Homo sapiens: one gene and its partners. The protein of the gene in region 3 purifies or fractionates together with the protein of the main gene of each other region. This does not show direct contact. Each region holds a gene or a part of one and is shown on either strand. Other genes may lie near its edges. The genes, in order: STX12, GHITM, SLC7A1 and GOLM1.

Evidence for each region.
Region 1: the proteins of SLC7A1 (region 3) and STX12 purify together in Homo sapiens (co-immunoprecipitation; 4 studies listed by BioGRID and IntAct, with this or other methods). This does not show direct contact.
Region 2: the proteins of SLC7A1 (region 3) and GHITM purify together in Homo sapiens (affinity purification with mass spectrometry; 3 studies listed by BioGRID and IntAct, with this or other methods). This does not show direct contact.
Region 4: the proteins of SLC7A1 (region 3) and GOLM1 purify together in Homo sapiens (affinity purification with mass spectrometry; 3 studies listed by BioGRID and IntAct, with this or other methods). This does not show direct contact.

What each region holds. Positions count from the first base shown.
Region 1 is NC_000001.11:27,796,711-27,804,273, reverse strand, and holds part of STX12 (syntaxin-12), read right to left. Parts: intron 2,597-7,563; coding exon 2,459-2,596; intron 1-2,458. UniProt on the Homo sapiens protein: SNARE promoting fusion of transport vesicles with target membranes. Together with SNARE STX6, promotes movement of vesicles from endosomes to the cell membrane, and may therefore function in the endocytic recycling pathway.
Region 2 is NC_000010.11:84,142,373-84,149,935, reverse strand, and holds part of GHITM (growth hormone-inducible transmembrane protein), read right to left. Parts: intron 7,282-7,563; coding exon 7,182-7,281; intron 5,942-7,181; coding exon 5,830-5,941; intron 5,062-5,829; coding exon 4,920-5,061; intron 1,207-4,919; coding exon 1,098-1,206; intron 1-1,097. UniProt on the Homo sapiens protein: Plays an important role in maintenance of mitochondrial morphology and in mediating either calcium or potassium/proton antiport. Mediates proton-dependent calcium efflux from mitochondrion.
Region 3 is NC_000013.11:29,585,126-29,592,688, reverse strand, and holds part of SLC7A1 (high affinity cationic amino acid transporter 1), read left to right. Parts: intron 1-5,896; exon of another isoform or gene 5,897-5,964; intron 5,965-7,563. UniProt on the Homo sapiens protein: High-affinity, low capacity permease involved in the transport of the cationic amino acids (arginine, lysine and ornithine) in non-hepatic tissues.
Region 4 is NC_000009.12:86,096,435-86,103,870, forward strand, and holds the start of GOLM1 (Golgi membrane protein 1), read right to left. Parts: upstream 3,125-7,436; 5' UTR 2,977-3,124; intron 1-2,976.

The DNA of each region.
Region 1 (7,563 bases), on a different chromosome or scaffold from region 3:
TGTATTTTTTAATAGAGACAGGGTTTCTCCATGTTGGCCAGGCTGGTCTTGAACTCCTGACCTCAGGTGATCCACCCGCCTCGGCCTCCCAAAGTGCTGGGATTACAGGCATGAGCCACTGCGCCCGGCCACAGAATTTAATGATTTTTAAGAGTGTAATGGGTTCCTGAGATTAAAAAGTTTGACAACTTTTGTTCTATTGAGTTGTATCTTTCTTTTTCATATTGATTCATGGGAATTCTGGGGTTTTTTTTGTTTTGTTTTTTGTTTTTTGAGATACAATCTTGTTGTGTCGCCCAGGCTGGAGCACAGGGGCACAATCTCAGCTCACTGCAACCTCTGTCTCCCTGGTTCAAGCGATTCTCCTGCCTCAGCCTCCAGAGTAGCTGGGATTACAGGCACGCGCTACCACGCCCAGCTAATTTTGTATTTTTAGTAGAGACAGGGTTTCACCATGTTGGCCAGGCTGGTCTTGAACTCCTGACCTCGTGATCTGCCCACCTTGGCCTCCCAAAGTGCTGGGATTACAGGTGTGAGCCACCACGCCTGGCCGAATTCTTTATATATTCTAAATGCTAGTCCTTTGCTATTAAATATATATAGCAATGTCTTCTCCCTGTGACTAGTCTTTTCACATCTTTACCACTTTTTTTGTTCTTCATTTCTTTCTGCTTTTCAGACTTTCCATCTGAGATCACTTTCCTTCCATCTGAAATACATTATTTAGAATTTCCTTCAATAAGATGTGCTGACAGAAAACTCTCTTTTGATTGAAAATGTCTTTAATTAGCCCTCATTCTGACATATATTTTCACTGGGTTTAGAATCCTAGGTAGGCAGTTATTGTCCTTCATCAACATTCAAGATAGCACTCTACTGGCTTCCACTGTTGTTGAGAAGTCAACTGTCAATCTAACTATTGTATCTTTGAAGGTATTCTAATGTTTCTCTAGCTATCTTTATGATTTTTCTCTTTGTCTCTGGTCTGAAGTTTGTCTTTGATGTATCTAGATTAGAGATTTTATTTATCCTGCTTGGGATTTGTTAGGCTTCTTGAAACTGCAGGCTAGTGTTTTTAATCAGTTCTAGAATATTATCACTCATTATTTCTTCAAATATCACCTCTGTTCTATGTTTGCCCTATTCTCACTCTATAACTCCAGTTAAAACTACGTTAGATCTTTTCTCTCCATTCTCCATTTTTCATAATCTTTCTTCCGTATTTAACCTCTTAACCCCCTATGCTACATGCTGGATAATATATTCTAACCAATTTTTTAGTTAAACCACCCATCCACTAAGTTTTTAAATTTCTATATTATATCTTTCCATTTTAGAAATTCTTTTGACACTTTTTCAAATCTTTGTGTAGTTTCCTGCAGAGGTTTTCAGCCTTTTATGTCTTTAAACACAATAAGTATAGTTGTCTTATAATTCTAATATAAAAAGTCTTTGTAGGTATATTTCACTTCATTGTTGTTTCTACTAATTCTTGTTCAGAGTAATTTGTTTCTTTGCACACATGGTTATTTTTAGTGACTGGTACTTACTGCCCTAGAAAAATTATTTGAGAGTATTATTTCAGGGCTAGGATAAAGGTGTCTTTCTACAGAAGGAATTTGTGTTTGCTTCTATCCCACACATAGGTGGCTCTCCCAGTCCAGGACCACTGAACCATTCAGGTAGGATGAATTTGAGCAGAAAATCTGCCTGAAGAAGGTTACTTTGTGGTAACCTTGTCTAGATTTCTCCTCCCTCCTGCCCTCCTCCTCCATCTGCTCAGTTCAGTGCTAATGCAATCTTTCTGTAATCTGCCGGGGGATAGAAGAGCTTACTTTTGACTTAATGTTCTAAGGATATAGTCTCTTAGGGCCCAGTTTAATTTGAGTTGTACCTTCTTTTATATTCTCTCTCTTGCATGGACCTTTGGCTTTGACTTTTATCCTCCCCATGCCATGAGGATATCAAAACTGAAGTTCAAGTTTGCCTTCAGTAAAGACATTCAATGCAAAAGCAGTTTCAGTATTCTGCTGACCTCTCAGGCTTTACCTTAATATTTTCATAATCTTTGATACTTTTGAGAAGTTGGATTTTTAAAATCCAGTATTTGAAAATCCTTTTCAAAAACAGAGGGCTAGTCCAAATAAACTAGCCTGTTATATTCCAGGAAACAGATTCATTATTTTTATTTTCAAGTTTTTAACGTTAAAACCAATATATCAAAATGAAAAAGAAAATTAGACATAGTTCTTCCTCCTATATCTCTTAACCTTCATTCAGATTCCTTTCTAGGCTTTGATCACATGCATATATGTTTTTTACATAGGTTACACCAACCTGCCATTTTCACAGCAGCTAACTTACATGTTTATTGGTCAAAGAGAAAAAGAAAAAAACCCACAAACTTGGAAAAGAACATTCTGATATTGCAAAGGTCTTCTTTTGGGAATCAACTTACAGAAAGACGAGATCCAGCTCTTGCTCTGGCAATACTCTCCTTTTCCTTTTCAGATACCCTTCTCTGCACAGCCTGGAAATTGTTTAAGGCTGCAGAGAAGTCATTCATGAGGCGTTCCTTCTGAAGTCTCTGCTGGCGCTAAGGAAATCAAGCAAGAACTTGAGATTTCATATTAACCCAGAATCATTTGGTTTTAATTTCCCTTAAAAGTAAAATTATACCCCTTAAAGATTTCCAACTAGGAAAATTATTATGAAATAGTCTCTTCTTTAAATTAATAAATTTGCTCTTTGCTAGCTCAAGTCCCTGGTTAATACTATAGACCAAGTCAGAATTTTTCTTCTTTCATTCTGACAAACCTGGAACTGGGTTGCATTTAACTTCTTCTTCTTTTTTTTTTTTTCTTTTTATTGAGACGGAGTCTTGCTCTGTCGCCCAGGCTGGAGCGCAGTGGCATGATCTCAGCTCACTGCCAACCTCTGCCGCCCGTGTTCAAGCGATTCTTGTGCCTCAGCCTCCTGAGGAGCTGGGATTACAGGCACCCACCACCATACCTGGCTAATTTTTTATTGTATTTTTAGTACAGATGGGGTTTCGCCATGTTGGCCGGGCTATTGTAGAACTCCTCACCTCAGGTGATCTGCCCGCCTCGGCCTCCCAAAGTGCTGGGATTACAGGCGTGAGTCACTGTGCCCAGCCTGTATTTAACTTCTAAAGTAATCTCCAAAGAACTGCAATTCAGAATTTTGGTGCCCTGGAGAATATAAAAGAGAATAAATACCTCTGGACTCCAGTTGAATCCAAACAGAGATGGGTTTTAGCTAAAATGTTAAAACCCTATTCATCTATATTGAATTCACAGCTTCCCTGTAAACTATAGAAGCATTTCACAGGCTTTTAGTGGTTTAAAATCTTTGAGACTTGGTAAGTACTTCATTTATCTACAGACTACCTCTACTAAGCTTGTTACTTCTATGTCTCAAAAAACATATGCTGAGGTTGAGCACAGTGGCTTATGCCTATAGTCCTAGTATTTTGGGAGGCTGAGGCAGGAGGATCACTTGAGCCTAGGAGTTCAAGACCAGCCTGAGCAACATGACAAAATCCTATCTCTACAAAAAATAAAAAAATTAGCCGGGCGTGGTGGTACACATCAGCTACTCAGAGGCTGGGGCAGGAGGATCATTTGACCCTGGAAGGTTGAGGCTGCAGTGAGTTGAAATCATGCCATGTACTCCAGCCTCAGCAATAGAGTGAAACTCTGTCTGAAAAAACAAAACAAAACACACACACACACACACACACACACACACACACACACACACACCACATACTGACAGCATTGTCCTGTTCTATGAACACAGAAGTAAAAACTCACCCCTGACCTCAAACAGCTGTCTATTTGTAAATAAAGGATATAGACAGACAAGTAACAAAGTTATTATAAATAACTGCTATATCCAATTGGTACTACAGGAGTTCAGAGGGCAGGAATAATCAGTAAGAACTCAAGCGGCCAAGAAAGGCCTCAAGAGAAGGTGGACAGTGAAGTAAGAGGAAGGCATGAATAAGCAGAAAGAAGGGGTAAGGCAAATCCAAGCAAGAGAATAGTGTGAGCAAAGGCATGGTGGCAGAACTTGAAGAGGATCTCTAGACAGACTGTTTGGTTGGAACTACACGTTTAGTAATGAGAGTAGCTAAAATACAAAATTGGAAAGTTAAGAAAGGGGCCAACCACAGCAGGTTTTAAATGCCAAGCTAGGCCGGGCGCAGTAGCGCATGCCTGTAATCCCAGCACTTTGGAAGGCAAGGTGGGTGGATCACTTGAGGGCAGGAATTATTCAAGACCGTCCTGGCCAACATGGTGAAACCCCATCACTACTAAAAATAGAAAAAATTACCTAGACATGGTGGCAGGCACCTGTAATCCCAGCTACTTGAGAGGCTGAGGCAGGAGAATTGCTTGAACCAGGAGGTGGAGGTTGCAGTGAGCTGAGATCGTGCCATTGCACTCCAGCCTGGGCAACACATGTGAAACTCCGTCTCAAAAAACAAAACAAAACGCCAAGCTATTGGGAGGATGAGGCAGGCAGATCACGAGGCCAGGAGATGGAGACCATCTGGCTAACATGGTGAAACCATGTCTCTACTAAAAATACAAAAAATTAGCCAGGCGTGGTGGCGTGCGCCTGTAGTCCTTTGCCACTTGGGAGGCTGAGGCAGGAGAACTGCTTAAACCTGGAAGGTGGAGGTTGCAGTGAGCTGAGATCGCGCCACTGCACTCCAGACTGAGCAAAAGAGCCAGGTTCTGTCTCAAAAAAAAAAACAAAAAAAAAAACAAGCTAATGAGTTTGGGGTTCAACCTCTAAAGAACAAAGAGCAATGAAGATTTTTGAGCAAGAAACATCATGGGTACAAAATAGTAACTTAGAAAAATTAGTCTGTGATGAGACCTGGGTCACCGTTTACACAAAGGTGGAATGGAAAAAAGAAACAAGTCAAACAGAACACTAATTCAATAGTCTAGGTTTAAGGTTAGGAGGACACAGTATCAGTAATAAAATCATAAAGAAATGAATTTAAGAAACATTTTGACTGGTGGTGGGGAAAGAGAGATAAAGTCAAGAATGACTGAAATTTCAAACCTGGAAGAGTGATGGTAATACTAAAAGCAAATTTAGATGAGCAACCCTTTTCTTCTGAGATTTTTATTTTTGCATAAACAAAATTATAACAATAACGGGGAGGACATCATTCCCTAACCTTACCGTGCAAAAATATTATCATAACTTTTAAATACATCATAAACATTTTCCATGTTACCATACTCTTCACAATTATGTTTTTGTTTTTTTTTTTTTTGAGACAGGGTCTTGCTCTGTCACCCAAGCTGGGGTGCAGTGGTGTGATCTCAGCTCACTGCAGCCCCAACCTCCCAGACTCAAATGATCCTCTCACCTCAGCCACCTGAGTAGCTGGGACTACAGATGTGTACCACGATGCCTGGCTAATTTTTTTTTTTTTTTTTTTTTTTTGAGACGGAGTCTCGCTCTGTCGTCCAGTCTGGAGTGCAGTGGCACGAGTTTTTTTTTTTTTCTTTTTTTGAGATGGAGTCTCGCTCTGTCACCCAGGCTGCAGTGCAGTGGCGCGATTTTTTTTTTTTTTTTTTTTGAGAGGGAGTCTCGCTCTGTCACCCCGGCTGGAGTGCAATGGCACAATCTCAGCTCACTGCAACCTCCGCCTCCTGGGTTCAAGCAATTCTCCTGCCTCAGTCTCCCGAGTAGTTGGGATTATAGGTGGCCACCATCACGCCTGGCTAATTTTTGTATTTTTAGTAGAGATGGGGTTTTGCCATGTTGGTCAGGCTGGTCTCAAACTCCTGACCTCAGGTGATCCGCCCACCTCGGCCTCCCAAAGTGCTGGGATTATAGGCATGAGCCACCGTGCCTGGCTAATTTTTGTAGAGATGTTGCCCGGGCTGGGTCTCAAACTCCTGTACTCAAGCAATCCACCCGCCTCAGCCTCCCAAAGTTCTGGGATTACAGGTGTGAACCACTGTGCCCGGCCATGATCTTTAATCGCTTACATATATTCCATCAAGTTGACCTAAATTTTATGTAAATAATCCTTCTAGATTTTTCACAGTTATTAAATATTATAAAGTAAGCCCCAATGTAATGGCTAATATTTATATAGTGCTTAAATTGTACCAGTACTACTGTAAGTGCTTTACATAATAATTCATTTATCTATACAATGACCTATAAATTAGGCATTATTATAGTCCCAACTTTACACATCAGAAAACCAAAGCACCACAGAGGCTATGTAATTTGCCCAGGATCACACAGTAAGTGACAAAGATGGATTTAAATCCAGGAAATTTGGCTCCAGAGTATATAGACTCTGTGTGTGTGTGTGTGTGTGTGTGTGTGTGTGTTTACCTTCAGAATTTTTTTTCCCCTTAGGGCTAATTAGCATGAGTGAGAATATTAGGTCAAAAGGCACAAACTTTTCTGTGATGTTAAGTATTGTCAATGAACTTAGTTAAGGGGTTTGGGAGAAACATGAGAAACTCAGTATAAGACAAGTTTTATATGAAGGTAGTTTATTTCAGGAGGAGATGTCAGAACATGAATTGAAGATATGGGCCACGCACTTAGAGGTGAAGGGGTTAGATTGGAAAAAGATCTGAGGTCATGATCATAAAGGTGAAAGGGAGGTCATAAAAGCAGGTGACTCCTAAGGAGAAAGCATACAGTGAAATAATTCGAGGATCAATGGCACAACCTTGGGGCATGCCCACTCTTAGGAGGATATGAAGTCCGGGAAGGAGGCTGACTCAACCTGGGGATCTCCAGAGTTGGGGGACACAATGAAAGAGAATCATGGCAAGAAGAAAGTTTCAGGGCAGACGGGATAGGCAAGAGGATCAAAGGAAACAGAAAAAAAGTGAATAGGCCAGGCATGGTAGCTCACACCTGCAATCCCAGAACTTTGGAAGGCCGAGGCAGGCGGATCACTTGAGGTCAGGAATTCAAGACCAACCTGGCCAACGTGGCAAAACCCTGTCTCTGCTAATAATACAAAAATTAGCGTGGTGGTGTGCGTCTGTAGTCCCTGCTACTTGGGAGTCTGAGGCAGGAGAATTGCTCGAACCTGGGAGACAAAGGTTGCAGTGAGCCTTTGCTCACTGGAGTGCAGATCATGCCACTGATCTGGTTGGAGTGCAGATCACGCCACTGCACTCCAGCCTGGGTGACACAGTGAAACTGTGTCTCAAAAAAAAAAAGTGAATAAAAACTCTTTATGGCCAGGTGCGGTGGCTCATGCCTGTAATCCCAGCACTTTGGGAGGCCAAGGCTGGCAGATCACCTGAGGTCGGGAGTTCAAGACCAGCCTGACCAACATGGAGAAACCCCATCTCTACTAAAAATACAAAATTAGCTGGGCATGGTGGCACATGCCTATAATCCCAGCTACTCGGGAGGCTGAGGCAGGAGAATTGCTTGAACCTGGGAGGTGGAAGTTGTGGTGAGCCGAGATTGCACCATTTGCGCAGTCCAGCCTGGGCAACAAGAGCGAAACTCTGTCCCAAAAAAAAA
Region 2 (7,563 bases), on a different chromosome or scaffold from region 3:
TCTGCCTTTAGATAATACTACCCCCACCAAATTCTACAGCCCAAATTGGTGACTACTCAAATTCTATATCACAACATTAACACTATTCCTAATCAATCACACTCACAAGCAAACACTAATCTACTTATTTAGTAACCATCAAATTCCATGTAGCTATTTGAATCTGAGCTTACCACTAGTTTCTACAACATTCATATAATAATTGAGATAAACAAGCTTAAAACAAATAACTCAAGGTCAAACCTACTGCTGTCAAAAGGGAAAGCATATGATGATAAACTTAAAATGTGGGAACTTCTAAGACAGACACTGCTGTTTCTTTATGTAATAAGGACTGCTAACAGCTTATAAATAAGTAATTTTAGTTGTCAGATATTTATAAACAATTTCGTAAAAAATTTACCAGTAATTCAACAAAGGTAAATGGAACTCCTTAATTGAAAAAAAACTTAGATAATGCATTATTTCAGTGCTAAGAAGAATAAGTTACCTTTTTCTTAAATGTCGTTTACCTCATAGACTAGGCACAAAGCTATCTTTATACTGAATTTTCAATACTAGCTTAAAGAATAACATTTCTAGATCAAGTTATATGGTTAATAAGGTATACTATCTCATGATGATGAATAATTTAAAAATACTTTTTGCTCTAGGCAAAACAGTGGGTGAAATTTCTACACAGAACACTTCTATTAGGACTCCTCTCAGTTTTTTGTTATTTCGCAGCAACATTTTTAGCACAACTTTCTCTATCCTCAGTTTTTAATTTTTCTAAACATACCAGACAAAAACAACTCTCAAATGATGCGTACTAGATATAAAACCCTCCTGGTATCGAACAAAATACACAAAAGTAAATCTCTGCATATACTAGACTGTCAGAAGATACAAGTTTCGTATTGAAGATGTCCATGGTCTTAGCAAAATCAACTTTTCAAAGCAAAGGTCTGGCAATAATGCAGCCAGTAATGACTGAAGAAAATGGTGTTTTCTAAACATGAGGCTTAAATTCCATGTAGGTCATTTACAACTGTGAAGAGCCACCCAAAAAAGGTGGTAGTCAAGGTTGTCTCGTAACAATTTAAAACAGAACATACCAGAATGTAGCAACCAAGCAAGATGCTTTGGGCCTGGGCTCTGGTCATATGGTATTGATCGTACCAGCATTCCAGCTCCAACCATGGCTGCAAAGGTCACACCAATTGTCTGAAAGACAAGTACTATTAAGAAAAACTGATCTTTATATGAAAACAAAGCAGAAACCCACAGGTTTGAAGTACAATTAGTTACTTCTAATAAACTAGTTGTAAAAATATTAAAGATAATAAATCAAAGCTTAAGGCCAGGCGTGGTGGCTCACGCCTGCAATCCCAGCACTTTGGGAGGCTGGGGCAGGTGGATCACCTGAGGTCAGAAGTTTGAGACCAGCCTGGCTAACTGGTGAAACCCTGTCTCTACTACAAATACAAAAATTAGCCAGGCGCAGTGGTGCGCGCCTGTAGTCCCAGCTACTTGGGAGGCTGAGTGAGGTGGGAAAATCACTTGAACCCGGGAGGTGGAGGTTGCAATGAGGCAAGATCGTGCCACTGCACTCTAGCCTGGGTGACAGAGCGAGACTCCATCTCAAAATAAAAAAATAAAAAATAAAAAATAAAAAATAAAAACTTTAATTTTTCTGGCACATTAAAAGCTCTGGGTTTATTTCAGAGTTTTGGCTAAGTTAGCACGAGTGCCCCCTACTGCCATATATGAGGTTTTGCAGACAGCTTCAAATGCATGTCTTAAGCTTGAACTGGCAACACATCTTTTAACAATTTTACTCTTGTTGGACAGAGGTGAAACAAAAACCCTTTAGGGATCCCAAGATAATTAACTCTTAATTAAAAAATATATTTTTGTATAGCACAAATAGCATTTTCTTTAAAATCAGTGATGCTTACAAATTAGTAATTTTTAAAAAAAATATATATAGCACATCACTTTGAACTCCATATTTGCTAAATGAAGACTTGAAAAATAGAAAGTAGATTATCACAGCACATGGAAAAGAAAAATGAGAAATAAGATTCTACACTTCTACCCTTCCAGGTTTATGGCTAATTTGGTCCTCATTCCTTTTCTTTGCCTATCTTAGATTTCCAGTGTTATAATTAAATATTGCTTGTGTATGACAAGAAGAATGTATTAACATGTAATGGAAATAAGATGGTGCTAATCTCCAAGAAATTTAAATCAGAGATTGCAAACTTGTAGCCCTTGGAATCAGGCCACAGATGTTTTGTTTGGCAAACTATGTTTAAAAAAACAAACAAAAAAAAAGAACATGGTGAATGGTTTTAGTTGAAAAGGTTAACTCTAGATGTCAGTAACCTCTAGATGTCAACAATCTCCTGTGTGACACACTAGGCCTCCTCACTCATCTGTATTATCTGTCTCACCTATGAACATCAAAATATTCAACCTCTAATATAAAGTACAGGTAAACCAAATAGCTGGTTTTGCCAAGAATGGGAAAACCTTAACATGAAAAAGCATACTGAGCTGGGTGTAGTGGTATGGACCTGTAATGTCAGTTACTTGGGTGGCTGAGGTGAAAGGACCACTTGAGCCTGGGAATTTAAGCCAAGCCTAGGCAAACATAGAGATCTAGTCTCTATTTTTAAAAAACATTAAAAAGAAAAGAAAAGCATATCGAGCTCCACTCCACCATTTTCTAACGAGAAATAATTACTACAAACTATTTCACACATCCTCTGTGGACAGCAGCAATTAAATTTTTTTAAGATCTTCTATGATCCAGTCTCACTCCAAACTCTGCATTCCAACCATACGGAACTGGCACAGCTGCCAACATGCCCCAAAATTTCAGGCCTCCTTAATTCAATCCATCATGCCTAAGAATATCTCCTTCCATATCTGGTCGACTTACTCTGGTACTGTCTCATCTCAAAAGCTTTTTCTAGTAGGTACCCTGGCTGCCCAAGAGCAAGATCAGATACCTCTCCTCAGATGCACTTGGGACAAACTTTGACATTATCTGTGTGTCTATGTGTGTGTTTGTATATATATGTCTGTCACACCCAAAAGGTTACATCTTCATCTCTGTAACACTTGTCTTTGGCTTTCCTATTTTCTGTATTACTAACAGTGGAAGAGGGTAATCTTTTGCCCAGAAGGGACTGAGGATATGGCCCAAACACAAAACTTCTTTGAAGCCTCATTTTAGGGCCTAAAATTTTAGGTAAATATTGTCATGTTTATTACAAAAGTATTGTTTTAAATTATTTGCTTCTGATTAAAACTGACATCCCCAGTGAAACATTCTGTGCCTTTGTGAACCTCTGGGCTGGGAGATTCATGACGTCTATGTGAAAAAGCATGATCCTAAGAATATATAAATATCCAAATGGCTGCTACTGTAAATGGTTATCCTTTAGTAAAGTACAACACAGTGAAAATAATATGGTTTTCGTCCCTATGTGGGGAATCAGTGTTACATGAACTCTCCTTCCCCTCCAGTATCACACTCTGCTCTAGTTCAGGTTCTTATCATCCCTCATTTCAGATCTTACAAAGGCACAGCTGGTACACCTGCTCCATGTCTCTTCCACATTGGTTCTAAAAACTCAAATATAAATCACGCTTTTGTTGTTCCAGTATCTCCAATGGCCTCCGACTGCTTAGGTTCTCTCCTCAGCTTGACAACTGTATCCTTTCTAACCACGTCTTCTTTACCCTCCAGACCTCAAACACTTGAATTTCCCTCTAATGGGATTGTAAGTCACCTCTGAAATTAGGTTTTCCTACCTCCTCTTCCCTTAAACTGTTTGGTAAAATTGGACCGCCCTTGTCTACTTAAAAAAATTTTTTTTTAATTTTTAAAATTTTCTATTTCTTTAAAAATTACAGACAGTGTCTCACTATGTTGCTCAGGTTGGTCTCAAATTCCTGGGCTCAAGCAATCTTCCTGCCTCAGCCTCCTAAAACGCTGAGATTACAGGTGTGAGCCACTGCACCTGGCCCTCTTGTCTACTTCTAAAATAAATGAGACATGTTAGCCTTCAACAACCCTGATGAAATAAATGTCTCCTTCACGGAACTTGCCTAACAGTCCAAGACAGAAACTCTCAACTGACTTTGCACTTTCTTATTGCGTATCTGTGCCACTTATTCCAGTTCATCTCTTCTACCAAATAGCAGGAGAATAGGGGACACATATTCAAATTCTCTTATCTAGCAAAATAACAAGGGCTCCAGAGAAACCGATTAAATATAAAATCTTCTATAAGGTCAAGAATCTTAGGAATAATAGTAGCAGCACTATTCTGCTCTTAACTGCATAGGCATTTCCCTCTGACTTCTAAGATGATTTTGCATTTGCTTTATTTTTTTAGTAAACTGCTACAAATTAGAGGCTGTCTGATATCTGCTGCTAGACAAAAATGTTGTCTCTGTAAGTTTGATTTCTAACTCCTCTGGTATTATTCGAATACATGTTTAATAAAGAATAATAGCTGACCTACCTAGAATGAACTTCCTACTTTTATCTCAGCTGCACTAATACAGGTTGAGTAACTCTCATCAGAAATGTCTGGGACCAGAAGTGTTTCAGACTTCAGATTTCGGACTATTTATCATTACACTTCATTGTTGTTAGGGTTCAGGATCCCTAATTCAAAAACCCAACATGTGAAATGCTACAATTTTCTTTGAGCATCATGTTGACACTACAAATGTTTTGGATTTTGGAGCATTTCTGGATTTTAAATTAGGGATGCTCAACCTGTAATTCATACATTATTTGAACAAAAACTTGTTCAATACAGTATTCTTTCCATTTAATAACCCTTCCCTCCAATATATTTTATCTAATCTTTTGATCTTTAGATGAAAAAGGAAAACAAAAACAGCTGACTTACCACCCAAGAGCCTCTCATCATGAAGTTCATGAGAACAGGCGTTCTGCTGATTGCTATGGCAGACAAAGCTGTTAAACCAATACTCCCTGCTAAGTACATATAGGTGGAATGAATTCTATCCTTGACATACTGAGGCCAAATTCTGTAAGAAACATGACATGATTAATCTATGAAATTACAGATTTGATTTCTGGTTGAGTCACACACTAGCTGGGCGACCTCGGGATAAATCATTTTACACTTTAAATCTTATTCACTTCATTTATCATGGAAATAATTATGATAATTATGCATACTTGGGAGTTACTGTAAGGACTAAATGAGATAAAACATACAAGCACATATAAAAAACAACATATTTTTGGCTGGGTGCGGTGGCTCATGCCTGTAATCCCAGCACTTTGGGAGGCTGAGGTGGGTGGATCACCTGAGGTCAGGAGATCGAGACCAGCCTGGCCAAAATGGTGAAACCCCGTCTCTACTAAAAATACAAAAAATAGCCGGGCATGGTGGCATGTGCCTGTAATCCCACCTACAGGAGCCTGAGGCAGGAGAATTGCCTGAACCCAGGAGGCGGAGGTTGCAGTGAGCCAAGATCGCGCCACTGCACCCCAGCCTGGGAGATAGAGCAAGACTCTCTCTCCAAAAAAACAAACAAACAAACAAACAAAAAACATATTTCATATTTTCTCTTTGCTTAAACACATATAACCTTGCTAAAAGATTTTTATTTAGATTTGAATAAATAAATGTCAAAGAAGCAAAAAGAGATTCTCTATTTGTGTGTATACACAAAGACTAGACACAAAACATTCCAAAGTGACTAAAGATAGGAATGAGAAGAAAATTTGAATTTTTGTTTTAAGGCTGGAGTTGTTTAGGAACAGTTTACTTAAAACAATTTACTTACACAGCCTTTTCAATAGCTCCAATCTCATTAGACAGTCCCAAGCCATAGTAGCACAATGCTCCAAGACCAACAGCAGCCCCTCCAGCAACAAACCATCTTCCCATCTGATCAACTGCAGAACACAGAAGGAAATGCAGGTTAGTACTGGCACATCTGGACAAAGCCTTTAAAATATTTATCAAGGGAATCAAATCATGTACCATATTTAATAGAAGCCATAATCAGTGCATATGGGGTACAGAAATTGCCTCAATGTTAGGTAACCAGTAGAAAAAAACACTCCTGAAACAAAGGTGTAAAAATCAGTACAAAAAAGAAAGGATCAGGCTTGGTGAATCTTCAACCTCCCTCCAACAATATTTGAGGGAGCAGTATACCTGTAGACGTGGAGCTACTTCTGTGATACCTATTATTTTACTAATAAGAGGTTGAAGTATATTCACATGACATTCATGGAAAGTAAAAAATGAGAAGGAAATGTTAACAGTCATACCATACTGCATGGTATTAACACAAATGATGCTTTACGTGGAAATCAAGAAAAAAGAGAAAATATAATCAGTGTTTATGCAGCAGAATCAAGTGAGAGGAGGCTCCCGTTTTAGGGTACTGAGAGGCAACTAATCAACTCTAACTCAATAGAGGTATTCATAAAGGGCATCTTATTCTTTTAGTCTAATTCGTTTACTAAGAATATTACTAGGCTGTCACTACATAATTTGCATGATTTGGTCTCTAGGGTCAAATCAGAAAGAAATGACCTGAAGGATACTGATTAGGGCTCTCTCCCACTGTAAAGACATTTTGCAAGATTATTAAGGAGCAGTGGTATTCTTTGAATAGCTTTAGGATGATTAACAATCTAGTTTCTGAACTTGCAAAGTTGATATCCAAACTGAACCAAACTGGCAATATATTAAAGTACTGCCCTCCTGAGGCCCTATGTGAGCAGTGAGTTAAAGGATTCTTCTTGGACAGCTAGGCTTTTATTAACATCTATGTGTTGGTGATTTATTCTTAATCTGAAACATACACAAATATTATATGCTTGAATGAGGATTCTACACACTTAAAATGAACTTTCTCAACAGAGTATACCTTTTGGACCATGGCATATTAATAATCCTTTTCTTTAAAAAAAAGGAAAGTAAAATTTCCACTGGAAGAAATATGATTGATAACCACTGAATCCAGTGCAAAGTACCAATCTTTTCTGGGTCGTCAGATCTCAGAATAATAATGTGGTCTTCCCAGAAAATGCACAAATACACATATATTTTTAGGAAGTTGTTCATGGACCTCTTAAAACATATCCATAGATTCTAGGTTAAAAACTAAAGATAGCCACCTACTTTTAAATATTTTTTCCATCGATGGTTCCAATGCTGCCTCTTTGAGTTCTTGGCCAGTTCTCCCACGCCGGATCCCAATTCTTGTTTTGGTGGCATATTCCTGACACACATGCAAACAAAGACACGTACCACCCACATGAAAACAGAACGTTAATAAAATAAAATGCAAGATCCCTTTACACTAGAAAACTCTAGTTAAAGAAACTTGGTACTTTCTATATACCTAACTTCACTATGGAAATTTATTAGCCAACTTAAAAAACTAAATGTAAAAATAAATAAATAAATGTAGACCTTCCCTGTGCTCCACCTTTGGAAGTTAGTAATTCATTATATTATTCTTAGTTTCAATTTCAGAAAAATTGTTTCTTTCACAAACTAT
Region 3 (7,563 bases):
ACTTTAGTGGCCTCCCTTTCTGTTTTGCCATAATCTGCCTCCTCCCCCACTCCCATACCCATCTACAAAGCAGCCTTGAAAATAACCACCCCTGTGGTTCAGTGTGGGTCATGATCTGTCAATCCAGGCTTAGTACATTTCCAAATGGAATTACCAGAAGGATGGGCATCAAACTGGGAAAATGATTTGGTGGCTTGCTAGCCGTGTTCCTTTTTCTCCCAAGGCATTCGTTCAGATGTGCAGTGTTGGCAGACCCAGGGGATGCCATTTACCTGGCCCACTGGTCGAGATTTGGTCATCCCAGGAACTTGGGCTTCAGAAAAGATGTTTCTGGGCTTTGGACCAGATTCTGGCTGGTCTGTGGTTTGCCCCTCCTGCCACACCCAGTGGCTTTCATTGGGCTTTTTTCCTCTAGTTATTGTCAGGAACAGTGGGGAATGGCAGGTATTGCATTTGGTGAACACACTGGATAACTGGAATCAGAGCCGTGTGACTGAGGGAAGAGGCCTTCACAGCTTCAATGCAGAATGGGATGATTATCTGCCCTGAAACGAAGGATGCTTCTTTGAGGGGAGTTGGGACCAATACTGGGAACAGCACCGCTCCTGGCTTCTCTGGCTTTGCTTCTCTCTGAAGTAATTTAGACTTCGTGAACCTTACATACTGGCTCCATCTGTATATTGGGAGAGCCTGTCCCTCTCAGCCTCACAGTAGTGAAGTTAGGAAGCATGGAGTCCACAGTGTTCTTTGAAAGAATCAAGGCACCAAGTCCATGCATTTACATTTCTCTCTTGAGATCAGTCCTTTTGTTAGCAGCCTGCAATTCTGACCACGGCAACCAAAAATTTCTGACCGTGGCAACCAAAAATCAAGCGCGAGGAAACCTGGGGGTTTATTTGGAGGTGGGAGAGGATGTCCCTTCTTCTGGTAGGACTATGTCTGGCTACATTGTCTTTCCATTTTTTTCTGATTGTCCCCTTGCCCCCCTCCCTTTTCTGGGGGCACAGAGGGCATGGCAATTTTGTTTCCTAGCTTTCCATATTCCTACTGCAGTGCTTTCTTCAGAATACTTGTTCAGATCGGATTCTTGGCTGTGAGGGCAACCAGCTGCTTTCCTGTTTCTTTAAAAGTGGATCCCACACTGCCGTGTCCTGCACAGTGAGTTCTGCATTGTAGAAACCATCTAGCAGTGGTGACTCAGGGAGTGGCCTCTGCTCGGTATGGGGCCTCTGCAACATGAGGTTATGGGGCTTCTACGCTGTGGGGTCAAAGGAGACATCATGATCCCTACTGGCAGAAAGAGCAGAGCCCCAGAGTGGGTTCCACTTACGGGGTCAGTGTCTTTTCTGAGATATTCCTCAGAACCACATTTAAATTCTTTTTCATATTGTTTGCATAATAATTGCCTTCTAGTGCCTACTTTATAGGACTGAGAGGATTTAAATGAGATAATCCATGTTATGGATTTAACACAGCCTCTGGCACAAGTCTAAATGTTGCATGTAAGTGTTAACTATTATACTGGAAAGAAGGCTCAGTTCCTTGATTTAGGTGTGGGAGAAAAATATATATATATTTTGAGATAGGGTCACACTCTGTCACCCAGGCTGGAGTGCAGTGGTGCAGTCACAGCTTGTATTAGCCTCCACCTCCTGGGATCAAGCGATCCTCCCACCTCAGCCTCTGAGGTACCTGGAACCATAGGTGTGTACCACCACACCCGGCTAATTTTTATTTTTTATTTTTTGGTAGAGAAGGGATCTCATTATGTTGCCCAGGCTGGTCTCAAACTCCTGGCCTCAAGTGATCCACCTGCCTCGCCTCCCTAAAGTGCTAGGTTTATGGTCGTGAGCCACTTAGCCTAGCCCTGAGAAAAATAATTTTTACAACAACTTAATTTCGCTCTCTCATTTTACCAAGGCATTAAAATGTTGTGCTCTTTCCTTGGGTGGGTTTCTAAATTAGAAGGGGCAGACATAGTCCCAGGGTGCTGGAGGAGGGATGCGGGCCTCTGAGGCATCTGCTGACAGGTTCACCATCCCATCTGGTCCCAGGTCTGAGGGAAGGAACAATAGTCTCTGGGCTGTTTTGGCTCTGACTGCCTGGATGGACTTGAAGCCATCTCTCTTTGGAATCCTGATGTCTCCCTGAGCATGGGGTGCAGGTTTGCTTAGGACTCAGACCCATGCACCTTGCGCTCAGTGACTTCTAGGACTCCTGGGAAACAGAGCTCTCAGCCCCTTTCTTAGTGTTTGCTGTGTGTGGGTATGTGTATGTTTATGTGTATGTGTATGTGTATGTGTATATGTATGTGTGTGTGTTTGGTGGGGGGCAGGACGGGAGTGACTGCCCTGGCTACAGTCATCCCAAACATGTTGTTCAAATTACTCCGAAGCCCTTGGGTTTTAGAAAAAGCAAAGCTGAAAAGCTGAAACTCTGGGCCGTGTTTCCCACCTCACTCATCCCGTGCTTGGGTCTGTAGGATAGGATGTCTCCATACAGCACAGGGGTGGTGGGCGACACCCACCTGGGGGCAGCAGTGAGAAGGCAGGGGCTCATCCTCCCCACAAAGTGGCTGGAGTTGATCTGTTATGGACGTGTTCGAAGTGTCCTTCTCTGCATCTTGTCTGCTTACTGAGTGCCATTAGCCAAAGTCTGTTAGGCCAAGTAGGAAGGAAGGGAGGGGCCCTGGGGCTAGGTAAGATCAATCATTGCAAGCACTTATTTAGTGCTCACCATGTACTCTGCGCTTTATCTATGTTTCATTTGAATCTTCCTAACCACCCAGTGGGATCGGCCCTTCTGGTGTGACTGATGGGGAGAGGGGAAGGCAGGTGGCCCACGGGCACACAGGTAGGCAGTCAGTGGCAGAGTGAAGATTGGAACCCAGATGTCTGCCTGTACCTGGACTCCAGCCTGTCTCGGGATAGGCCTGGCCTGGCCTGCCCTGTGTACACTGAGTGGGAGGCAGACAGATCTGAAGCCCATCTGCCTGCGTCCCTCTGTTTCTGGCTGAGTCCAGGTGGTGCTGGCACCGGTCACCCGCCCCAACGCTGGAGGGCACCCTGCCTCCCCTCTCTTTGCCCTGATTTCCCTCTGCTGTCTCTGAAAGTGGGTCTTCCCCCTCCCAAGTCCAGGCACCTGGCACAGCTGGAGCCCTGGGGTCCTTGGGGCAGCTGCGCTGGGACGTGGCCAGTGTCAGGAGCCGGTGTGTGTGACGGAGGCTGGGCTGCATTCTTTCTGGGTCAGTAGTTTGGCATTTACATCACCAGCCTTTGGCTGGATGCAATGCCTCCTGCCCAGACCACAATGGAGCCTTGTTTGATTTATCACCATCCAGCCACGCCCACACTCCACCTCCATCTCCACCTGGGGAGACCCCTTTGCAGGGGGTCTTGTGGAAATCAGAGACTGTTCGTAGGGGAAAGTCAGCTTCCTTTTCTGTGTTCCATCCTTCTTAAGGCCAGTGGCCGCTGTCATCCTGCCCTTGGCTTGGCTTTGCTGATTTCTACAATATCTTGCGGAGGTGCCCCCTTTCCTTAGAGGATGCATCTTTAACACTCTCAGAGAGGCTGGGGCAGGAGCTGTCCACACCAGGGCCTGCAGCAAGGGCCCGTCTTCCCCAAAGTGACTTGGGAGAGTCTTCCTGGCCCGCAGCTTTTCCACAGTGTCAGGGACACCTCCTGCCCTCCCTTGGGATGAGGCCTGGTCTAGGAGCTGGGGGCGTTAGGGTGCAGTTTCTGGGACCCAGTGAAGGCCCCTGGGAAAGACTGGCAGTTAGAGTTAGGAGAACTCTTCCCTCATCCCTTTTGCCCTTCTCCTTTTCCCCTTTTCTTTTTCAGCAGTTTTTGGATAACATTTCAAACTTAAAGAAAAGTTGCAGAGGCCAGGCATGGTGGCTCACGCCTGTAATCCCAGCACTTTGGGAGGCTGAGGCAAACAGATCACTTGAGGCCAGGAGTTTGAGACCAGCCCTGGCCAACATGGTGAAACTCATGTCTACGAAAAATACAAAAGTTAGCCTGGTGTTGGTGGCGCATGCCTATAGTTGCAGCTACTCGGGAGGCTGAGACACAGGAATCACTTGAACCCGGGAGGCGGAGGTTGCAGGGAGCCGAGATCACACCACTGCACTCCAGCCTGGGTAACAGAGTGAGATACTGTCTCAAAAAAAAAAAAAGAAAGAAAAGAAAAGAAAATTTGCAGGAGTGCAAGGAACTCCTGGGTACCGTCTCTCAGATGCACAGGTGGGTTATGTTTTGCCTCCTTCTATTCTCTCTCCACCCCACACAAACTCACATGCACACAGACACATACATTTTTTTCTGAACCATTTGAGAGTCAGCTGAAGACGTCATGCCATTTTATTTGCCCTCTATACTTCAGTGTATATTTCCTAAGAACAAGGCTCTTCTCTCACATAACCATGGTACAATAGCAAAGTCAGGAAATTTAACATTAATACAACCCTGCGATCTAGGCCACAGTCCATATTTGACTTGCAGTCGTCCACATAATGTCCTTTATAGCTAAGTATTTTTGGGGAAGGAGTTTTGCAGTGTGGGGGTTCTTTCAAAAGAGGTGTGATTTTCTACCTCATAAGCCTTTTTAAGAAAAAGTGTTTCTAAAAGTTAGAATGTTTGTTGTGGAAAATTTGGAAACTACAGAAAATTAAAAGAAGGAGAAAATAAAACCCATTCATAATTCCAGCTCAGAGGCTGAGTGATCGACCAGAAAGGTGGTGGAAAGACTTTCTCAGCTCCTTCAGCTCTGGTGACCTGGCCACACAGACTCGTGATCCCTCCACCACCCACACACTAGTCAGGAGCCCCGCAGCCAAGTCCTGGGGCTGTGGGAGGAGCCGGCCCCTGTCTGGAGCTGACGGTCTTTCATGCTCCTGCCCACCCCTTGGGCAGGTGCCCACCGAGCAGGCAGACTTAACCAGCCTTGGTGGTGCCTTTGTGGTGCATATCCTCCAGGTGGGGAAGGGTGGAGATCGTTAATAAATATCCAGAACTTGTTTGAGACTTGAAAAGAAATGTTGCAGGCCCACTCTTGTCTGGTCTATACCCCTTGCTTCCTGGACTTGGCAGAGGTTAAGGATGGGGCCTGGAGCGTGATTGAGGGAAACAGCACTGGCCCCATATCAGTGAGCTCTTGGGTGCTTCATGTGGTTGTTAGACTTGCCTTTTAATGAGCCTCTTGGCCCCTACCAGTGGGCTACGGAAGAAATAAAATGTGAAATTTTACCATGTGAAGTTTGCTGTTTGCCAATGACTGTGCTTCTCAAAAGTTCCTAGGGAAAGGTTTTAAAACTGGTGCAGGTAGTGAAGTTTGGATCTCGCTTCCCTGCTTTGTCCGCTTAGGTGGTCCATTCGCCATAACAGCTGGAACTGAGAGTGGCTCTCCCCTTTCCTGGCCCAGAACGGGTCTTTGCTAAGCGAGTCTGGTTTCTGGAAGGATTTTGTTCTTAGAAGCTACTACGTCATTGTCCTCAGCTCCCCATCATTTGTACCTCAGTTTCCCTGAGCTGTAAGTCTATGTTATGTGTGAAAATGGGCCTCTGAAGGTCATGATCAAAAGCCTTGAGTATTTTTCCATGTGTTTGTTTTTTCTACTCCGGCCCCAGACCCTCTCCTTGAAGGAGCTGGCCTTGAGAGTGACTTCGGTGGGCAGCCGCCCAGACTCCACACACCCTGCTGAGTCCACGTAACGCCCAACCTGGACGGGCCAGAGCTGAAGGGCTACTCTTCAAAGAAACCCTTTGAAGTGCAAACATTTCCTTTCCTGAAAAGAAGGGAAATTGAAATGAAAACGTATTGTTCTGTGCAGACAATGTTCTCTTCGATCAAAGAGGGAGTGGGGCTTATAAAGGGAGATGCACAAATTAGAGCTTGATGTGGCCAGTGGTGTGGATGTGAATATTCATCCCTGTGGAGGAAAATAGTGGGGTCTCTGAGATTTGTAAGATTGTATTTTCCTTTTTTTTCTTCTTTTTCCTTAAGGCTCTGAATCTAGGTCTAACGTTCTATTTAATGATGTCTCTCCTTTGTGTTTTTATCTTGTGGTAAGCATTTGGGAGTGTCTTTCAGTAAATCATGATACCATTTCCATGTTAGAATACTATGTAGCCAGTAAGAATGGCGTTTTCAAAGAACATTTGATTTTGTGGGAGAAACTTTAATGTTAAAAGTGAAACCATCTGGGTGCAATTTCCCATGTTCCGTGTTAGCTTAATGAGATATATGTATTTGCACAGAAAGAAAAGACTGGAAAAATTGGACTTTGTTTTTCTCACTGCAGTGTTTGTGGCACCTAAAATAGTGCTCAAGAAATATTTATTGAATGACTATTCTTATAATTAGTAAAACTGTATTTAAAGGAGGAATGTCTTTGAGCTAATGTTTTGGCAGGTGGATGGGACAATATATTATTTTAAGTTTCTGTTGTAATTTTGCCCTAGCAGCTCAGTTCTGGTAGATTTTGTTCTTTGGCACACATACATACCCCATTTTGCACTTTGGTACAAATTATACTGTGAATGGGTGACTTTGACATTTATATTTTTGGAAGAATCCAGTTCTACTGAAATCAGAGTATCAGATGTTGTCTTTTTCCTAATGTTCCCAGATGGGGTAGAATTACAGCTTCTTCTTACTTACTCTGTAACTAAGGAACCTTTGGGCCAGTTTGTCCTGTCCTGTGGTTGAGAATTTTTGCCTGGTTTGCCCAGGGTTTCTCATCCTTGAGCATCCAAGGCTACCAAGATACACTGTTCATATGTCGTCCTGGTTTCTAATGGATAGTTATCTAAAAATGCAGCTTCCCATTCTTACCTGCACTGTAGGTTAGCTTGGAAGATGTCCATCCCTGGTCTCAGTGGTCTTGTTCAGGGAGGGTGACTGTCACAGCTGTCCTTTCCTCTCTGGTGAGATTGTTTCATTCCTCCTTCAGGCACTTGGGATTCAGAGCCCTGTTGGCTGCCTCTTCTGTACTGTCAGCTTAGCACAGGATTCTGGAAGCCCGGTGCTGGGAAAGCCTTTCTCTGGGCTGTTTGGGATGGGACTACTGGTTACCCGCACACACTGGTACTCACTGGGTGTTCCCGAGGATGGCGGCTTTTAAACTTCTTTGACCGCAGTCTACAATAAGAACTAAATTTACATTGTAATCAAGTACACACACAGAGGCACACATATTGATATATAGATAAAATGAAAATTTTTATGAAACAGTACTCATTTTTACTATCTGTGATACGCTGAGATAATTTTTATTCTTTTCTATTTCATTACAAGAAAAATTCCTCGTGGCAACTTGGAGTTTGCAAAACACACTAGGTTTAGACATATGAGCCACACCTCACCTGCAACTCCACCACATTGTCCTGAATTTCATGTTCACTGCTGGCACTAGGGGATGGGAGTCAATTCTCCATCCAGACCAGTTAGGGCAAAGAAAGTTGAAGAGTCAAGGTTTCTTTTTGTGGTGATTTAGGAGTTTCTGACTGAAGGGGACATTATTCTCTGTGATGATGCCCAAGAAAGTGAGTAGGTTTTCAGG
Region 4 (7,436 bases), on a different chromosome or scaffold from region 3:
GTCCTTAAAGTGTGGTCCCCATATTAGCAGCATCAGCATTACCTTGGAATTTGTCAGAAATGCAAATTTTGTGGCCGACCCCAGACCTACCAAGTCAGAGGTCTGTTTATTCCACTAATAAATGCAAACACAGGACAGCAAAATACCGTGGCTGGCAAAGCTCTATACTGAGTCAGCCTTGCATGAGATACCTCATGAAGTAGAAACTATGCTGATGTAATCAGATCTGACAAGACACAGGCCCAAAATACTTAAAATTAAGAGAAAGAGTATTTAAAACAGGGTTTCTACCTCTAATGTTGTTAACAAATCCAGCCCTATGTGTATATTGGGCCTTGAGACACAATATAACCATAACAGCAAATACATGTAGTTTATAAATAAGCAACAAATGCACATACAGAAGAGTGTTAAAAAAGTTTTTTTATTACTAAGAAACATCAAAAAAGTTGGGAAACGATAGCAAATTACAATATAAACAACTATAATCATATTATATAGTATTTATATATGTACTTTTTTCTGTCAGGCACTAATCTTCAAAATCTTAGCAAGGGAAGTCCTACTAATAAAGTGCTTAAGGGTTTTAAAGGAAAATAAGACCAAAATGTAAAAATCTGAGAAGGCATGGACTTTTTTTTTTTTTTTTCCTGAAAGTGTGAGAAATATCTGTGTGAAAGAAAGGAAAGACTCTCTGGAAATTTAAGAAACACTTCATAAATTTGGAGACAAGTCTCTCTTTTAATGTAACTTCATCAATAACGTGAGAAGTCCAGAAAACCACCATGATCTTTAAGAACAGTTTTTGGGGAGCAAGTGAAATATCATTCGCCCTTTTCTAAGGTGAGAGCAAAAGCATAGTAGCACCATTCCTTCTGTTCCTTCTACTTTTTTACAAATGTTTAAAAAATTGTTTTGTTTTACAAAAACAGAAGTGCTTTTAAAAAATCCCAATTACAAATGTTATTTCTCACATTACGTCACTGAAAAAGAAATGTATCTTTTTTCATAGGGCAACTTATTTTTTTTTTATTTCAAGAAAAAACAAGTAATAACAATAATGCTGCAGAATTTAAGCCAAAGGCACAGAACACCGCTCCCCCGCCCCCAATGGCCACCCCAGGTCCTTTGAGAAAGGCGGCTGGACCTCAGGGACCACGCTGCCTTCAAGCTCCCTCCCACCAATAGTGCCCATCAACTGACACCTGTCTTCTTCTCAGCACACCTGCCTAAAGTGATGCTCCACCCTTCCTACTGATCCACGCAGACGCATTTTCCCCAGGTTCTGCCCTCTGTACTTCCAATGCAGAAAGCCAGCTCGCACTTTCACAGGATAAGGGTAGCAGTTCCCTCCTTCCTGGGGAAGGTGGCCATATATATATAAACCCGGGTAGCCCTGGGCCTGCTATGGTCAGCTGTCCTAACTGTTGTTTCTGCCCAGCCCTCAACAACAACAACAACAGCGGGTGGAATGTAAATGCAAAATCTTTTCATTTCCCATCAATAACTGGACCTAAACCAGCCATTAGAAAGCAGATGGTATCCCTGGCCCTTAATATCCAAGTCACCACAATTTCCTGGCCCCACCCTCAGCACTACTTTCCTCTCATTTCTTTCGTTTTCCTGTAAAACCAACTTTAAAAAAAAATGTGAAAATTGGATAACCTCTCCATAGGAGAACAAAATGTATCTTAAAAGCTAACCTCTTTTCTTTAACCATCCTAACAATTCAATTTTTGTTCACTGACACCTTAAGAATTGAGTGTCTGGCCTAAAAACAGTAAGTCTTAGCAAGTTACTAGTTTCTATTAAGAAAGAAAGTAATGAGCTTAGCTTCATCTTTTATAACACAACTGGAAGAAGCTAGGATGCCTTTGGAGACCCACAAAAACTGACAAGAGATTGTCCCATGCCCTCCAAAATTCAGAAATACTAAAACTGAGATTTGAGCCAACCTGATGGCCATGAGCTAAACAAAGCCACTCAAGCGCTGCTAAATACTTCATCAGGTTATTGTGTATCTCACTAATCCAGCCCTAGAAATGTTCCTCAATAATGTGCATAATGTAGGGCCTAGGGACCCCAAATCAGACAAAGAAAACCTCAAAATCGTGAAAGTCACACAAGTTTAGTTTTGCAAATCTGGCTATGGGACATCTGAAATTGTCCAGCATCATCATGGTATTTCAAATATAATAATTCTTAAATTTTGCTAAAAAATTTCATCAAAATTGTTATTCTTCACATTTTGTTTCTTAAAAGCAAATCATTAAAAATATTAAATGGGATATGATTTTTACAGCAGGGCAAAGTTGTGTGGATCCTCCACGTTGGCAAAGGTGGAAACACAGGTATGCGAGAAAACCCCGAGCATCCACGAGAACGGGATGCAGCCGCGCTCTGGACGCGCGGCGGGAGGACCCGGAGCCCAAGCTCCGGGGTCACCAGCCACGAGGCCCAGCGGCAACGTGGACCCCAGGGCGGCCGGAGCGCGCCTGGGGCTGGAGGGGAGGAAGAGGCGGCGGGAGCCGAGAGACTCGCGGCTCGGCCAGCCTCCCGCGCCTGGTGCAAATCACGCTGCAGAACTGGAACTAGTGCGACTTAGGGGGTGCACGCTTTTGACTTTGGATGCCGACGCGCGTGACAAAGCTCAGAACAAAAAGACAGGCCCCGCATCGCCTGAGACTGCAGGGCAGGGAATCCTCGCGAGGCCCCTCATCGCAGGGCAAGGGGGCCGCGCGCCCGGTCTTGGGGAGCGAGCCGAGGGGCCCAGGCAGCCGCGGGCTACTCGGTGCAGGAAGGTGCGGAGCCAGCCCCGAGCGCAGCCAGCGAAGGTTGCAGCCCCGGCGCAAGCCGCGGGGAGGCTCCGGGGACCGACGCGAGGTCTCGGCGCGCGGGGTACGGGCCCTGGGCAAAGGAGGGAGGAAGCGATGGACCGCGGTTCGGGCAGCCTGGGGCCGCGCGCCGCCCACTCACCTCTTTTCGAGGCTCCGGCCGCCACTCGGGGATCCGGGGCCCCGCTACGAGGCCGCCCGGGTCGCTCTCCCGCCGCCGCCGGCCTCGAGCTCCGGCCGGCTCCGCGCCGTGCGCCCAGCGCCTCCGCGTCCAGCGCCGCCGCGTCTCCGGCCTCCGCAGCGGCAAGGCCCCGCCCCCGAGCAGCGCCGGCGGCGCGAAGGGAGGAGGCGGCGCCGCGAGCGCGGAGAAGCGAGGCAGGGGCTGCCGGGGCCGCGCGGACTCCCGGCCCCACGGTGCGCGCGCCCCGGCCGGTGGCCGCCCCTCGGCGGGAGCAGGAACGCCAGCGTGCGCCCAGTTCTCGCCGCTGGGCGTTGCCCCTTCCCCCGGGCCACCCCATCGCCCCTTCCGACGCGGGAGCTGGCGCCTGAGCAGCGACGCGGAGCGGGGAAGCGGCTGTGGGGAAAGGGTACCTGGGGGGAGCCCCCATCCCACGTTCCGCCCCGAGGGAATGTTCCCGAACAGCCAACCGCACCCAGCGCCACACTCACGTTACCTTCTTTATAAAAGTCGTCGGGTCAAAACTGCCCAGAGAAGGAAGCGAACGAAAAACAGGTTTTTAGGGGGCTTATACTCACAAAATTGTCTTTTTTCTCCCACGAGGCATTCCCTGTTGACCATCATCTCGCCTCGGTTGTCACCGCTCAGGCCTTAGTGTTTGGTCTGTGACCCTTCCACTGCTAGCAACGGAAAAAGTGAAGATTCCCGGACGCCTTCGGGTGTGATCTTATAGCCCGGGCAGCTGCATTTGAAACAGCGCCTCAGATGACGCTCAGGCGCACTGATGTTTGAGAAGCCCTATGAGGCCGTACCTCCCGGAGAGAATGCCACAAAACTAGTGACCTACAGGGAAACCATGCTAGAAAATTCTAAAGCAATGGTTCTTAACTCTGGCAGCACCTGCCATCCATTAGAATTATTTGGGGAGCTTTTAGAGCATTTAGGAACCAGGGTCCCACTTCCAGAGTTCAAAGTGAACTTGATATTTTTTGTTTGTTTTGAGCTTCCCAGATAATCCTAATACAGTATACGGCCAAGATTGAGAACAGTTTTCCTAGAATCATGTCTTCATGTCTTCCTAGCTCTGGTGTCTGGGAAAGGAAACTCCTTCCTCTGCGCCTCTCTCAAATCACAATAAAAAAACAAGTAAATACATGAACACCTAAAGGAATGCTCACAGCTGAAATTGATTTTAACCAGAACAAAGAGTCACCTTAAAAAAGGTGATCAAGATACCCTATTGCTACCTGAGCATGGAGCTTCTTAACTGCAGGAAACGTATCTTTACCAGCTAAAACCTCTTAGCTGAATTAGAAGCTGACCATACATGACCCCTTTAGAGGAATGTTCTACTATATTCCAAAATGATATTTTTGTTATCTGCAACTGTTAAACTGTTGTAGGGTCAGACCAAAGCATTCAGAAGCTGAGGCTGTATCAGATGTCAGCCCTGGTTTTGCAGACTTAAGTTGTGTCACTTTGATCTTCTAGTGAGCTTAAATAACCATAATCGGGGACAGGTACAGGAAATTCCCTTTCTTGCCCATTTTAGCTCTCTTAGTATAGTTTACATTCTTAGACTGGTGGACTGTAACTTCTATATCATTTGGCTCTAAGGAGGGTCTCCATTAGTCTCTCATTTATCAGCAACTAATTAGCGACTCACTCAGTGATTCTTAAACACTTTATGGAACAGGTCCATATGTCTAGGTGCTAAGGCAGCTGGCTGAATGAGCTATATTTTAATTGAAGATGAATTAGTCCTTTTCGTTAGATTCTTTATGACAAAAGTTGAAAATTTTAAGATGCAGTTTTATATATATCTATATACATAATTTACATTCCTTATAAAAAAGCTAATCAGTTGCTGGCCCTGAAAATTCAATTGGATGGGTTTTGATTAAACAATGTGCAAGGGGCTACAGTGGTTGGTTGAAGGAAGCATCCATGTTTTGCCTGTTAAGCATCCTTTCCTTAATGTCTTAGTCCATTTTGTGTTGCTATAACACAATTCCACAGACTCAGTAATTTATAAAGAAAAGAAATGTATTTCTCATAGTTCTGAAGGCTAGGAAGTCTAATATCAAGGTGCTGGCATCTTGCAAGGGCCTTCTTGCTGCATCAGCCTGTGGTGGAAGGCAGAAGGGCAAGAGGGTGTATGTGAAATTGAACTTGCAGCCTCAAACCCTCTATAATTGGCATTAATTTATTTATAAGAGTGGAGCCTTTATGACCTAAACACCTCCCTTTGGGCCCCACCTCCCAACACTGTTGCACTGGAGATTCAGTTTTCAACACGTGCTTTATGGAGCACACATTCAAACCATAGCATTCTGCTTCTATGCCCCCCACCACCCCCAGTTCATATCCTTCTCACATACAAAATACATTTATTCCATCCCAACAGCCCTAAAGGCTTTAATATTTATTTATTTATTTATTTATTTTGAGACAGGGTTTCACTCTGTCCCCCCGGCAGAAGTGCAGTGGTGTGATCATGGCTCACTACAGCCTCAACCTCCTGGGCTCAGGTGATTCTCCCACCTCAGCCTCCTGAGTAACTGGGACTACAGGTGTATGCCATCATGCTCAGCTAATTTTTTTGGTATTTTTTGTAGAGATGAGGTTTTGACATGTGGCCCAGGCTGGTCTCAAACTCCTGGGCTCAAGCAATCCACCTGCCTCAGCCTTCGAGAGTGGTGGGACTACAGTCATGAGCCACTGCACCTGGCAGCCCTAAGGTCTTCACTCTAGCACCAACTAGAAAGTCCAGAGTCTCATCTAAATCAGATATGAGCAAGATTCAAGGCACAATTCATCCTAAGACAAATTCCTCCAGCAATGAGCCTGTGAAATTAAAACAAATTATTTACTTCCAAAATACAATGGTGGCACAGGCACAGTATAGGTATTCACATTCCCAAAGGGAGAAATATGTAAGATAAAGGGGTAACTGGTCCCAAGTAAGTCCAAAACCCAACAGGGAAAAAATAACATTAAATCCCAAAGCCTCAGAATAGCCTTTCTTGACTATATCTCACCTTCTAAGCATACTAGGGTGGGAGTTGGACCCCCAAGGTCTTGGGCTGCCCCATCTGTATAACTTGGCTGGGTGTAGTCATGTCACAGAACCTCATGGTTTGTAGTCTCATGTCTAAAGCTCTTCCAAGCTGTGTTGCACACTGGTAGCTCTACAGTTCTGGGGGCTCTGGGACAGCCCCAACCCCACAGTTCCATTGGTCATTGTCCTAGTGGTGGTTCCCTGCTATGGCTTTGCTTCCATGGCTCCACTAGGCATTTCCCTGGTAGGGAATCTCTGTGGCAGTTCTGCCCCTACGGCAAGTTTCTGCCTGTATCCCCAGGCTGTCCAGTACATTCTTTGGAATCTAGGTGGAGGCTGCCATAGCCCCATAGCTCATGAACTCTGTGTACCTTCAGAATTAGCACCACATGGATGCCGCCAAGGCCCACCACTTACACCCTCTAGAACAGTAGCCTAAGCCACAGCTGGGCCCACTTGAGCCACACAGCTGCAACAGCTGTGGAGTGCTGTGCTGGAAAGCGGGGAGCAGATACTTGAGGCAGTGCCTGGTAGCAAATGCTGAGGTCCTGTGGCCACGTCTCTGGAAACCTTGCCTTCAAGGTCCTGCTCTGGGCCTGTGATGGAAGGGGCAACCTAAAAAATCTCTGAAATGCCATTGGGGTCTTTCTTGTCTTGATGAATAGCACCTGACTCCTTTCTAGCCATGGTAATCTCTTTAGCAAGGGGTCCACTGGACTATATCCCTACAAGGACTTACATCTTTATGAGGCTCTCCCAAACATGCCTTTGCACTCTTGGCCAGGCTGAAAATTTTCAAAATTTTTTTCTGCTTCCTTTTTAGTTATAAATTTCATCTTTTAATCATTTATTTCTTCTCTAATTTTACTGTAAGCAGCCAAAACAATCCATGCAACACCTTGAATGCTTTACTGCTTAGACATTTCTTCTGCTAGATATCCTAGTTCATTGCTCTTAAATGCTGCCTTCTTTTCTCTAGCTTACCTTATTGTAAGAATACAGTTTATAATACATATAACATGCAAAATATGTGTTAACTGTTTATGTTATCAGTAAGGCTACCAGTCAACAGTAGGCTATCAGTAGTTAAGTTTTGGGGGAATCAAAGTTAAATGCAGATTTCCAACTGTGCAGAGATGGGGGTGTCCCTAACCCGTAGATTGTTCAAGGGTAAACTGCATGAAATAAATTGAATTGAACAGACTAAAAAGTATTTGCTGTAAATATCTTGCTGTGTTTGCTTTCAGTATCCATTATTTCCTTTCTCAGGTACCAACATCATCATTTTTTGGAGAACTATTTCTCCCTGACTTTTCAATCCTAAATATCTGTCATAAGCTGAACAGTTGCCCCCTGCCAAAGA